Regions from separate parts of the Homo sapiens genome. Here regions 1, 3 and 4 are each reported to be linked to region 2. Evidence: microRNA targets listed by miRTarBase, many of them from high-throughput screens and not tested one by one. Region 2 holds a microRNA gene; each other region holds the end of a gene's coding sequence.
Evidence for each region. Region 2 holds the annotated microRNA hsa-miR-4747-5p (AGGGAAGGAGGCUUGGUCUUAG, at 1,307-1,328, shown strand). A microRNA usually pairs through its seed, bases 2 to 8, with sites in the 3' UTR of a target mRNA and lowers its output. Matches are read on the target gene's strand: a 7mer-m8 pairs with bases 2 to 8, a 7mer-A1 pairs with bases 2 to 7 and ends in A, and an 8mer does both.

Region 1: miRTarBase lists NOL10 as a target of hsa-miR-4747-5p. The part of its 3' UTR that is shown has no 7-base or 8-base seed match.
Region 3: miRTarBase lists CLPX as a target of hsa-miR-4747-5p. Seed matches in the 3' UTR shown: 7mer-A1 at 1,045-1,051 and 7mer-A1 at 2,499-2,505.
Region 4: the mRNA of TPD52L2 is a reported target of hsa-miR-4747-5p. Seed matches in the 3' UTR shown: 7mer-m8 at 2,292-2,298.

Annotation. Positions count from the first base shown.
Region 1 is chr2:10,569,300-10,572,299 of GRCh38, reverse strand. It overlaps NOL10 (nucleolar protein 10), which reads left to right. Exons shown (of 21, transcript NM_024894.4): 21 at 110-1,546. The coding sequence ends at 229. Among named protein-coding and RNA genes, the nearest start is that of NOL10, 120 kb to the left of the region's middle.
Region 2 is chr19:4,931,381-4,934,380 of GRCh38, forward strand. It overlaps MIR4747 (microRNA 4747), which reads left to right and starts at 1,307; the gene lies at 1,307-1,360. UHRF1 (ubiquitin like with PHD and ring finger domains 1) reads left to right here. Exons shown (of 17, transcript NM_001048201.3): 5 at 1,361-1,576.
Region 3 is chr15:65,147,822-65,150,987 of GRCh38, reverse strand. CLPX (caseinolytic mitochondrial matrix peptidase chaperone subunit X) reads left to right here. Exons shown (of 14, transcript NM_006660.5): 14 at 75-2,769. The coding sequence ends at 165. Among named protein-coding and RNA genes, the nearest start is that of PDCD7, 16 kb to the right of the region's middle.
Region 4 is chr20:63,889,469-63,892,639 of GRCh38, reverse strand. TPD52L2 (TPD52 like 2) reads right to left here. Exons shown (of 7, transcript NM_003288.4): 7 at 1,102-2,790. The coding sequence ends at 2,695. Among named protein-coding and RNA genes, the nearest start is that of DNAJC5, 4.1 kb to the left of the region's middle.

The DNA of each region.
Region 1 (3,000 bases), not on the chromosome of region 2:
GGCAGCAGTTCTGAGATTGGTGGTGGTACTGTTGGCAGCCTGACGGTTACCAGAAAAGAGGTATAGAATTTTCTCTCTTTCCCTCTACTCATTTCATTTTCTCTTTTAGTCTGAACAGCAGAAGAAGCAACAGGAGGCTGAGAAACTGCATCGACAAGAAAGGAAAAGACTCCGTCGTTCGGCCGGACACCTGAAGTCAAGACACAAAAGAGGACGGTCGTTTCATTGATTTGGGAAGTGGTCCTACCTGTGATTAGGGAGGGGTACGTCTCCCCCAAACTGATCATCGTTAGGGTGTTAAACACAGACGAGGAAACACACGTTTTTAAAGTTCATGTACGTTCTTGTACACAGAGGTAAAGATTTGAAAACCTGTGCCTTGTGGGTTGGACTTTGAAGCTGGCCCCGCCGACGGCCACCGCACAGCCCCAGGGGTGTGCTTGCGAGTCGTTGCTCCCTGGAAACATTGTCCTTTCCCCACGGCGTTAATCATGAAAACCAGGCTGGGGTTTTTTTAATATTGTGAAATGTACACCATGAAATGAAAGGTTTATCCTGTGCCAGAAACCAAGGTTTATCATGCTCTAGGAACTTTTTTCTTACACTGCCTACCGCCATTCATGATTAAACCATCCAGAAATACCATCCCTGTTTTACCTGGTGTCTGTGTATTGCCTGTGTTTGTGTTTATAAGTTTATGCTGATAGGTTTGTTCGGCTTGTTTATGTATTAGTTTGGGATTTGTTTTTAAATAATTTATACCAAGAGAGTATAATCTAATGGTGCAGGTTGAGAGCATCCCAAATCCGAAAATCTAAAACTGTTTGAGCACTGTATTTATCTGTTCTTGCACTGCTATAAAGAACTACCTGAAACTGGGTAATTTATAAGTAAAGAAAAGAGGTTTAATTGACTCACAGTTCTACAGGTGGTACAGGAAGCATGGCTGTGGAGGCCCTGGGAAGCTTACAATCGTGGCAGAAGGTGAAGCGGAAGCAGGTATGTCCTGCGTGGCTAGAGCCAGAGGAGGAGGGCAAAGGGGCAGATGCTGCACACTTTCAAACACCAGATCTCCAAGAACTCACTAACACAGAATAGCAAGGGGGAAGTCTGCCCCCATGTTTCAGTCACCTCCCTCCAGGCCCCTCCTCCAACACCGAAGATTACAATTTGACATGAGATTTGTGTGGGGACACAGAGCAAAACCATATCAAGCACTGACATGACATTGGAGGAAAATGCTCATTAGAGCTTTTCAGGTTTTGGATTTTCAGATTTGGGATACTTGACTAGTAAATATAATACAGATATTCCAAAACACACAAAAAAACCAAAGTCTAAAAGACTTCTGGTCCCAAGCATTTCAGATAAGGGATACCCAACCTGTAATAATGGGAAACAAGCAGTAGAGGCTGTTGGTTAATCTTGGCACAAGTTTAATTACAGGTTTTTTTTTTTTCCTGTTTCTTAAGTACAGTCAAACATAAACTTACTGGAGGAAACATTTATAAAAATAAATATACTTTCATTTGAATAGCTTCTTTGAGAAAGACTCCAAGAAAATTTTTTTTTCATTAGTCAAACGGTGGTGTGCACTTGTAGTCCCAGCTACTGAGGCTGAGGTGGGTTGCTTGAGCCTGAGAAGTCGAGGCCAGCCTGGACGACAGAGCAAGACCTGCGTCTCAAAAAAAGAAAGAAGAGAACCAACTTTGGTTTCCTTAGTTTTTCCAGCTTTGATGTGATTTTGGAGGTGCCTTTATAGATTTTTAAGGTTCTTTATATACAACTGAAATAGTAACTCTTTGGACTGTGAATGATACAGCCTAATTTCGAATAGCATAAGCCGAGAGGCAGAATGCATTAATTTACATCACCATGCTTGGGACATGGAACTGGCCTCAGGAACACCTAGATCCATGGCTCCACGGTCAGTCAGCTAGCACATGCGCACTCTATCTCTGTTTCCCTCTTTCTCTCTCTCTCCTTCCCCTACTCCCTCCCTTCCTCCTCCTGTCTCACCATTGTTCCTTCTCTCTTCAGGCCTCCCCTGCTGTCTTTTCCCTATGTGTTTCCCGTCCCCCTGCCTCTGCTCTCTGTGCTGCTTCTGCTTCTGTGCAGATTGGCTTGTTCCCAAGGCAGGGAACAGCTCAGCCATGTGTCCACTTCTGTGGTCCGAGAAATGAGGTCTGTTTACAGAAAAAAGGTGTGTGGAAGGTGGGGTATGTGTGTATGTTCTTGTTCCTGGGGCACCCAGCCCCATTTGTGCTGTGGTACCAGGGAGTCCTCCAGCTGTTCCAACCCCTGGACCGGTACTGTCCTTTTTCAGCTTCTTTCCCCCTAAACTCTTGCTCACTGTCCACCTCTTCTCAAAGGAAGTGGCTGCAGCTTCCTGTTGCCTTCTCTTCTCTGTTTCTACGCTGCCTCCCTCAGGGATGGGGGGTTTTAAAAATTTAGAGAGGGACATTTTGCTGGCTGGAATGTCCCCAGGGGTTGGGTGTTTATGCCCTTGGCCTGTTTCCTGACGTCAGGGTCTGTCACGTCTACTCCTGGCTTTCCCAGGCCCCTCTTTTCCTTCCTTCTTGAAGGGCCTCCTGGTTCTGTGGGGAGCCGGTATTCCGCAGGGCCAGATTCCACAGGCAGCGGTGCTCTCTGTTCACCCAGCACTGTCAGCACACCAGGAGGTCAGGACATCAGGGTAGAGGAGGAGGGCCAGGATCACTTCTGGGCACCTGGGAGGCTGGCAGTTTAGTAGAAAGAGCTTGCATTTGGAACCACCCTGACACAGGGTCGAATTCCAGGTCTGTTGCCTACTAGTTCTGTGTCTTTTGACTGTTGCCTTAATCTCTGTGAATCTCATTTCCTCCTGTAGATCAGCCTAATACTTAGTTTTTATTAGAGTAAAATGAGGCACTTACATTAGGTACAGCACCTGGCACTGTGCAAGGCTCATGAGGATTTGACAAAGCTTCTTGACCATTGAGGGTTTTCAAGAGCAGGGGA
Region 2 (3,000 bases):
ATTCTCCTGCCTCAGCCTCCTGAGTAGCTGGGACTACAGGTGCCCGCCACCACACCCAGCTAATGTTTGTATTTTTATTTTATTTTATTTTTATTTTATTTTTTCGAGACAGAGTCTTACTCTGTCACTCAGGCTAGAGTGCAATGGCGTGGTCTCAGCTCACTGCAACCTCCGCCTCCCAGGTTCAAGCGATTCTCCTGCCTCAGCCTCCCAAGTAGCTGGGATTACAGGTGTGTGGCCACCACGCCTGGCTAATTTTTGTATTTTCAGAAGAGATGGGGTTTCACTATGTAGGTGAGGCTGGTCTCAAACTTCTGACCTCGTGTTCCGCCCGCCTCAGCCTCCCAGAGTGTTGGGATTACAGGTGTGAGCCACTGTGCCCAGCTTATTTTATTTTTTTGAGACAGTTTCACTCTGTCCCCCAGGCTGGAGTGCAATGGTGTGATCTTGGCTCATTGCACCCTCCATCTCCCGGGTTCAAACGATTCTCCTGCCTCAGCCTCCCAAGTGGCTGGGACTACAGGCGTGCACCACTGCGCCCAGCTAATTTTTGTTTTTGTTTTGTTTTTGAGACAGAGTTTCACTCTTGTTGCCCAGGCTGGCGTCAATGGCGCGATCTCGGCTCACCGCAACCTCTGCCTCCCGGGTTCAAGCAATTCTGCCTCAGCCTCCCGAGTAGCTGGGATTACAGGCATGCGCCACCACGCCTGGCTAATTTTGTATTTTTAGTAGAGATGGGGTTTCTCCATGTTGGCTGGTCTCCAACTTCCGACCTCAGATGATCTGCCTGCCTCAGCCTCCCAAAGTGCTGGGATTACAGGCATGAGCCACCGTGCCCGGCCATGCCTGGCTAATTTTTGTATTTTTAGTAGAGGCAGGGTTTCACCGTGTTGGTCAGGCTGGTCTTGAACTCCTGACCTCAGGTGATCTTCCCGCTTCGGCCTCCCAAAGTGCTGGGATTACAGGCGTGGGCCACCTTGCCCGGCCTCTCCTCTTGTTCTAAAGACACCAGTCCTGTTGGATTGGGGCCCACCCTACTGCAGTGTGATCTCATCTTAATATGATTTCATCTGCAAAGGTTCTATCTACAAAGACCCTGTTTCCAAAAACAATCCTATTCGTGGGTACTGGGGATCAGCCTTTGAACATCTCTTTTTGCAGGGGACACGGGCAACCCATAACAATTTTGTACCTGGAATGTGCCTTAATATACCTGTGTGTTCTCAACACCAGCATATAAGCCTGTTGGGAGGGGCCTCTGCACACTGTCGGGAGGGGCCGTCCCACCTCGGCTCGTTTCCCATTGAGGGAAGGAGGCTTGGTCTTAGCACGGGGTCTAAGGCCCGGGCTTTCCTCCCAGCTACCCGGAGAACGGCGTGGTCCAGATGAACTCCAGGGACGTCCGAGCGCGCGCCCGCACCATCATCAAGTGGCAGGACCTGGAGGTGGGCCAGGTGGTCATGCTCAACTACAACCCCGACAACCCCAAGGAGCGGGGCTTCTGGTACGACGCGGAGATCTCCAGGAAGCGCGAGACCAGGACGGCGCGGGAACTCTACGCCAACGTGGTGCTGGGGTGAGCCTCGCGTCCTGGGGCGAGCCCTTCCTCTCTCCTTTCCTCCCCTCCCGGGGCCCCCGGACTGGCTTTGAAGCCGTCCAGCCAGCGCTGTGTGTGCGAGGCCCTTAGCCTCCGGCCTGGCCTTCCTGCCTCCCCTCTGGGGTCTGTTCCTGCTCACTGCTGAGCATCTTTCTAAGACCGACCACCTTGTGCCCCTGAGTGCCTCTGCCCAGGGAACTGTCTCTGACCCCCAGGCCCTGACAGGCAGAGTTGTCAAACTTCCTTTTTCTCATGGTGTTTTTTTTATCGCTCTGTTGCCCAGGCTGGAGTGCAGTGGTTCGATCTCGGTTCACTGCAAGCTCTGCCTCCTGGGTTCATGCCATTCTCCTGCCTCAGCCTCCCGAGTAGCTGGGACTACAGGCGTCTACCACCACACCTGGCTAATTTTTTTGTATTTTTAGTAGAGACGGGGTTTCACCGTTAACCAGGATGGTCTCGATCTCCTGACCTCGTGATCTGCCTGCCTCGGCCTCCCAAAGTGCTGGGATTGCAGGCAGTGAGCCACCGTGCCTGGCCTCAAGCTTTCTTTTTCTCTCTTGTTTGTTTCAAATTTGGTGAATAGGTCCCATTCACAGGGTCAAAATAGAAAGCACCCAAGACCACACATGAAGGTTCTCCCTCCTCTGCCTGGTCACCCAGTTCCCCTTTTTGGCGACATCACTGTTACCAACTTTCCAGGGACATTCTGTTCATAAACATACACGCCAAACCACACCGCTTAGGAGTTGGCAAACTGCAGTCCACAGGCCTGCTGTGGTCCGCTGCCGGCTTTGACTAATAGTTTTATTGGGACGTGGTCACACCCATTTTTATCTTATTACCTGTGGTTGCTTTTGTGTTATAAGAGCAGAGTTGTGTAGTTGCAACAGAGACTATGCGGCCTACAAAGCTGAAAATCCTTCCTATTTGGCCATTTGCAGAATCATTTTGCAAAGCCTGTTCTTTCTCCCTTGCCTCTTTGTGTGTGTGTGTGCGTGTGTGTGTGTGTGTGTGTGTGTGATAAAATGTATGTAACAGAAAATTTACCTTTTTTTTTTTTTTAAAAGACAGAGTCTCCCTCTGTCGCCCAGGCTGGGGTATAGTGGCATGATCTTGGCTCACTGCAGCCTCCGCCTTCCAGGTTCAGGTGATTCTCCTGCCTCAGCCTCCCAAGTAGTTGGGATTACAGGCGCCCGCCACCACGTCTGGCTAATTTTTGTATATATATATATATTTAGTAGAGTCTGGGTTTCACCATGTTGGCCAGGCTGGTCTCGAACTCCTGACCTCAAGTGATTCGCCCGCCTCAGCCTCCCACAGTGCTGGGATTACAGGCATGAGCCACTGCGCCCGGCCAAAAATTTACCATTGGAACCATGTTTAAGCGCACAGTTCGGTGGCAT
Region 3 (3,166 bases), not on the chromosome of region 2:
GCTGTTTTGATTTTAAAGATCATGTTTACCTCCATTTTTTATTTTAAAAAAACAAACATGGCTTTTCATTGTAGGGCTCCAACAAAAGAATCCTCTGAAGAGGAGTATGACTCTGGAGTTGAAGAAGAAGGATGGCCCCGCCAAGCAGATGCTGCAAACAGCTAAACTGTCATATTGCTGTCTTGTATATACAGCTTTTCCTTCTTTTGTTTAGGATCATAATTGTCTCTACAGTCTGATATTAAAGGCATTGGATCTATCTTGGATATCATACATGGTCAGAGAAGCCTTTAGGAGAAGAATCAGATCATGTATATAATTGTAACATCACATTGATTTTACGGAAGATGTTATATGGACTTTAATGACACAATGTTTAGAGATAAAATGTACATTATTTTGGTTCAGTTTTTTAAAAAAAATATGCTTTAACAAAATTCTTAGGAATTCTTTTAAGCAATGCAGGTATTGCGATAACTGTAGATTTTACAATAATGTTACTCTACAAATGGGAAAATAAATTCTTTAAAATTGAATATTGAGATACCATTCTTTAGTGTTACCTTTTTTACCCACATGTGTTTCTGAAAATATTGGAATTTTATTCATCTTAAAAATTGGACCAGGTAGGCCGGGCGTGGTGGCTCACGCCTGTAATCCCAGCACTTTGGGAGGCCAAGGCGGGTGGATCACGAGGTCAGGAGTTCAAGACCAGCCTGGCCAAGATGGTGAAACCCCATCTCTACTAAAAATATGAAAAATTAGCTGGGTGCCGTGGCAGGTGCCTGTAATCCCAGCTACTCGGGAGGCTGAGGCAGGAGAATCGCTTGAACTCGGAGGGCAGAGTTTACAGTGAGCTGAGGTTGTGCCACTGCACTCCAGCCTGGGCGACAAAGTGAGACTCCGTCTCAGGGCGAAAACAAAAAATTGGACCAGGTAGTTTTCAAGTAGTTAAACATTTCATTGAAAAATACCCTGAAGAACTATATTTTGATAATTGGTTTAGCTGTATTCCTAGTCTTATCTGCTAATGCATGACACTAACTTCCCAATTGGTTCTGTAAAAAAGGCCATTTTCTTACCAAGTTGTCTGATTTATTTACCATCTTTTTTTTTTTTTTTTTTTTAATTGAGCGGAGTCTCACGCTGTCCCAAGCTGAAGTGCAGTGGTGCGATCTTGGCTCACTGCAACCTCCGCCTCCCAGGTTCAAGCAATTTTCCTGCCTCAGCCTTCCAAGTAGCTGGGATTATAGGCACGCACCACCACACCTGGCTAATTTTTGTATTTTTAGTAGAGACAGGGTTTCACCCTGTTGGCCAGGCTAGTCTGTAACTCCTGACCTTGTGATCTGCTGGCCTCAGCCTCCCAAAGTGCTGGGATTGCAGGCGTAAGCCACCACACCCGGCCTTATTTACCATCTTTAATCCATTTTAGTACTATGGGTGAGTACATGGAATTGAAGTCTGGCTTAAATCTTCAGAAAGTTATATATCTATTTTATTTTATTTTTTTGAGACAGAGTCTCGCTGTGTCACCCAGGCTGGAGTACAGTGCCACAATCTTGGCTCACTGCAACCTCTGAGTCCCAGGTTCAAGCGATACTCATGCCTCAGCCTCCTGAGTAGCTGGGACTACAGGCGTGCACCACCACACCTGGCTAATTTTTTGTATTTTTAGTAGAGACGGGGTTTCGCCATGTTGCCCAGGCTGGTCTCTCCTGAGCTCAGGCAATCGGCCACCTTGGCCTCTGAAAGTGCTAGAATTACGGGCATGAGCCACCGCATCCAGCCAGAAAGATACATATCTAATTCTAGAAATAGCATGCAGTATCAGTCATAGTAACAGCCATGTGCTGACCTAAATAAAATTTCTTGATATTGTGTATTTAACCTGAAGTATTGAGCTAGTTTTTTTGTTTTGTTTTTTGGTGCTGAACATTTTGGTCTAATTCTTTGGCTTCTTAGAACATTTTAAAAAATCTATGTTTTGCTATCAGCCAAAGTAAATGTGTTCACACTAACATATAAGTTACTAACCTTCATTATACAGCAAAGCTAAAAAGTGGTGGGATATTTGGGGTCTTAATGAAAATTGTATCATTTAATTCCATAAATATTAAAATATTTGGGTACCTTTTAAGCTTTTTTTCTTTCCTTCTATAATGGTGGTACAAGTTCTATATTCATTCAGTTTAATCTCATTTGAAATTGTTTAAATCAGAGTACATGTAAATATTTGTGGGTTTTTTTTTTTGGTTTATAGACTCGAGCTTTCCTTTTACACAGTTTTTTTTAGGGAAAAACTAAAGCTATTAGGAAATTCTAAATCTTGTTGATGAAGAGTTGGGCTTTCTTTGATATAATTAATAAAAGGGATGTATGGTATTTATGGCTGGGTAGGACCAGAAATGCACTTTGTATTACAGAGTGTTAAGGCTGGTTGCTATAGTATGGAACAGAAACACCTCTCCTTGGTCTCCCTAGTAATGGTTCAAGTTCTTCCCAGGAAGTCTTACATATTATAACTTTGTTCATTATCTTTCCCTTATAGCATCATTTTCCTTTTTGTAGAGTGGAAATCAGACTAGCTGCTAAACATATTAAGGTTAATCCTCCAGAAATGTACTGGGGAGGCATTTTAGTCACAACAACTTACATTTGGCTTTGGAAGTTGTTAACAAAGCATAGTCGATGTTTTTAAATCAAACATAATTTGTATCTTGGAACTTACATTTTGACATTTGAATAAAACAAAAAGACTAAATGAAAGCCAACGTGGTGGTGTGTCCATACAGCAATGGTGCAGGAGCACTCTGCATTGACAACAACAAGCACAGCCAAACAGTGCCATTTTTAAAAGGGCACAGATGTCATATGAGCTGCTTCATTCTAGGGATTGATTAATCCTTGGCACTTCCATATCAGATAAATTCTAGCTGTAGATTCCACAGACAATGTCTGTTAAACATTTATCAAAAATCCTTACTTAAATGTCCCGCTTGACACTAGGGACACAGGCCAAGTTTTTCAGGAATCTTACTAGTCTTGTAGGGGAAACAAATACAAACTAAAGTGTATTTTAATAGTGGAAGTGAGATAGGTACCAGGTGTGGTGACATAGAAAGTGATGGCCTAGATAAGTCTGGAAGAACAAGTAGAAATTTGC
Region 4 (3,171 bases), not on the chromosome of region 2:
TCTTACCCGCAGGGCAGTTACAGTATCTGTTCAATAAATGAAGAACACATGAACTCATTCCAAAATAAATTAGTGTAAATCTTGACTGCAGGCGGCAATAGTGCATTTCACCCTTTATTGGTACCAGCTCCCTGCTGTATTGGGGCTTATGTACCATACAATTCGAGGTCACCTAACTTTCCCTGCTCTTACATCTGGGGTGAGCCCAGCTACCTCTGACCTCCAAAGGAAGACTGGTGCTCCCACTAGTTTTCCAGTGGGAACTCCAAAGACTAGGAATGGATACATGCAAAGCGCCAGACCAGGGGCAGAGTGGAGGTTCCCCCTCAAGGGTCTTTTCCTTTTTCTTTTTCTTTTTTTTTTTTTTTTTTGAGACAGAGTCTCGCTTTATCGCCCAGGCCGGAGTGCAATGGCGTGATCTCGGCTAACTGCAACCTCCACCTCCCGGGTTCAAATGATTCTCCTACCTCAGCCTCCTGAGCAGCTGGGATTACAGGTGTGAACCACCACACTCGGCTAATTATTTCACTTTTTTGTAGAGTCAGGGCCTGGCTACGATGCTCAAGCTGGTGTCAAACTCCCAGGCTCAAGTGATCCTCCCATCTTGGCCTTCCAAAGTCCTGAGCTTACAGACATGAGCCACCACACCCAGCCTACTGTTTTTAGTTGAGATGGAATCCCGGTATGCTGCCCAGGCTGGTCCTGAACTCCTGGGCTCAGGTGATCTGCCTCACCCTCCAGAATGGCGGGGACTACAGGTGTGCTCAGCAGCAGCTCAGTGCTTGCAGGGGCAGCTGGCGAAGCCTCTGGAGCTCCCGGCCCAACCTGGAGCCTGGTGAGCTCCTCCTCCGCCTCCTGGGGCTCAGTTTCAACTCCTCTTCCCAAGACGCTGGGTCTGACCTCACAGGTTGGCCATATACCATTCTCCCCTCACAGCTGGCTCCCCTTGTCCCAGCATTGAGGACCTGCCCTTTGTCTTTAGCACTGTCCCCTGCCTGCCTCTCCCAAGGGTGCGGACTCATTAGGGCAGGTACCGTGTGCCAGTTCATTTACCACTCTTATCATGGTCCCGAACGATACATCACACAAGCCGAGGCGGACTTTCCCCCAAAGGAATGCTTTATTGACAAATTACCCATTATTATAATAACTTTAAGGAAAAGATACATCGGTCAACACCCGCACAACCTGCCTTCTCACCACACCCCACAGGCCGATTTTAACCCTGGACGAAGGGCACCGAGCGCTGGGCTTCCCTGGCCCCTGCATCTCTGTCGTGTGTGGAGTGCCATCCCCAAGGGTGTCTGAACTGTCCGGGGACACGGCTGTCAGAGGACACTTGCTCTACCGAACAGGACACCTTGAGCTGAGCAGCCCTTCCCCTCCCGGGAGTGGCAGAGCCGGGCACACCACAGGCAGGCCCTCAGTGTCCTGCCAAGAGCCACTAAGGCACAGAGCTCCCCCTGCAGACCACGCCATCTGACATGCAGGGCCCCGGTGTGCGAGAGAGGCTGCTGGGGTGCGACTATTTAGTAACAGGAAGAGATCTTTGTAGCTCCTGAGAAAAAGACTGTAACGGCAATCCTGGCTGATGCCCACGCCCCACCCTCCACCTGACCTGTGGGGTCGTTTCATCCCAAGTACAGCAAGCAGGAGGGTTGGAGTCACTGACGAATGTGAGCCGGGCCAGGCCCATGCAAAGGCAGCACTGAGAAGGGGGGCACAGTTCTTTTAAAGGGTGCTAAAGACAGGGTTTTCCTTCTCTTGGCCCCTCCCATTCCCAGAGGCTCAAGAGCCCTTTAGGGCAGGGCATAGGAGCCAGCGGGAGCTGCCACGGTTGAGAAGAGAAGCAGGTTTTGTACACTGGGATGGAGTGTGCGTGACATAAAACACCTCAACTGGAAGAGGCTGCCACGCAGGCCAGGTGTAAAATTCCACACAATGCTCACAACCATTAAGGAACCCTCATCTATATACATATAAAAATTAGAAAGAAATAAAGCATAAGGCAATGTAAGGCTTGTATTTCAGCTTGAGTCCAAAGAAATAATATTCTATGAGGCTAAAGCTGCTTTGCCTAATTTAAACTTTTTGAAAAGTCCACTGCATTTAAAAAATAATGAATTTGCTTCCGTTAAAGCTAGATTCGCGTAACAATCAGGCAGCTGCTGAGGGTCAGTTTCCTTTCTGGGGGTCTCAGAAAATGGACAGTTTTCTCGTTCGGCATTTTGAGATAAAAAATTGCGTAACAGGTAGGACTTGCTGGGTGATTGCATTCCTTCTGTGAGTCAGGGAAGGAGGAGGAGGAAGAAGTCAGAAAATGCCACTTATTTTATGCTTAGAACTCTTCAATCCTTCAACATTCTGATGGGCTAACATGATTCCCAAAGGGAGCCTGGGCTTTGGCTCAATATTCTTTCAAACCCTCCGCCCTGTCCACTTCCTGCACCCCTAGGAAGGACAGCACAGTGATCTGTTTCATCTACAAACGTGAGTGTAAAACATCTGTGTACAAGCCTGTGTTCTTCAAATTCATGCAAACGCGGCAGCCACATCTCCGCGTGGATGGGCAGGACTGTCCTCAGGGCCGGCTCTGCTCATCCGCCCTGGCTGGCTGCTCCGCTGAACAGAGCTGCGGCTGTGATGCTGAGGCTGGGTTGCGTGTGCTCTGCAGCGGGTGAAGCAACCACAGGCTTAGAAAGGTGCGGGATCCGACAGGGGCTTGTCACCACTCCCCGCTGAGGAAGGGAGGTTGTCACTGCCGTTCTCTCTGTCACCCACAACCTTAGACTACAGGAGAGAAAAGATGAAGACAGAAAAACCTGAGACAGAGCACACAACACAAGGCAGATCCCAGGCCCATGCTCAATGCTCTACAAAAGCTTATGTAACACGAACACTGCTCAGCAGGGACAGGGAGCAAATCACGGACGGGCACCAGCCCCAACAGGTCTCCAGAGAACGATGCCAAATGAAGACAGTGAATGCCAAAAAGCTGCACACTGTATCGTTCCATTTACGTGACATTCTTGAAATGACACAATTATACAAAGGGAGAGTGGACTAGGGGTTGCCGGGGGTAGGGCGGGAGGAAGGTCAGCATGGCCAAGAAGGTACCAGGAAGGGCAGTGGGGACCAGGAAGGGCAGTGGGGACCAGGAAGGGCAGTGTG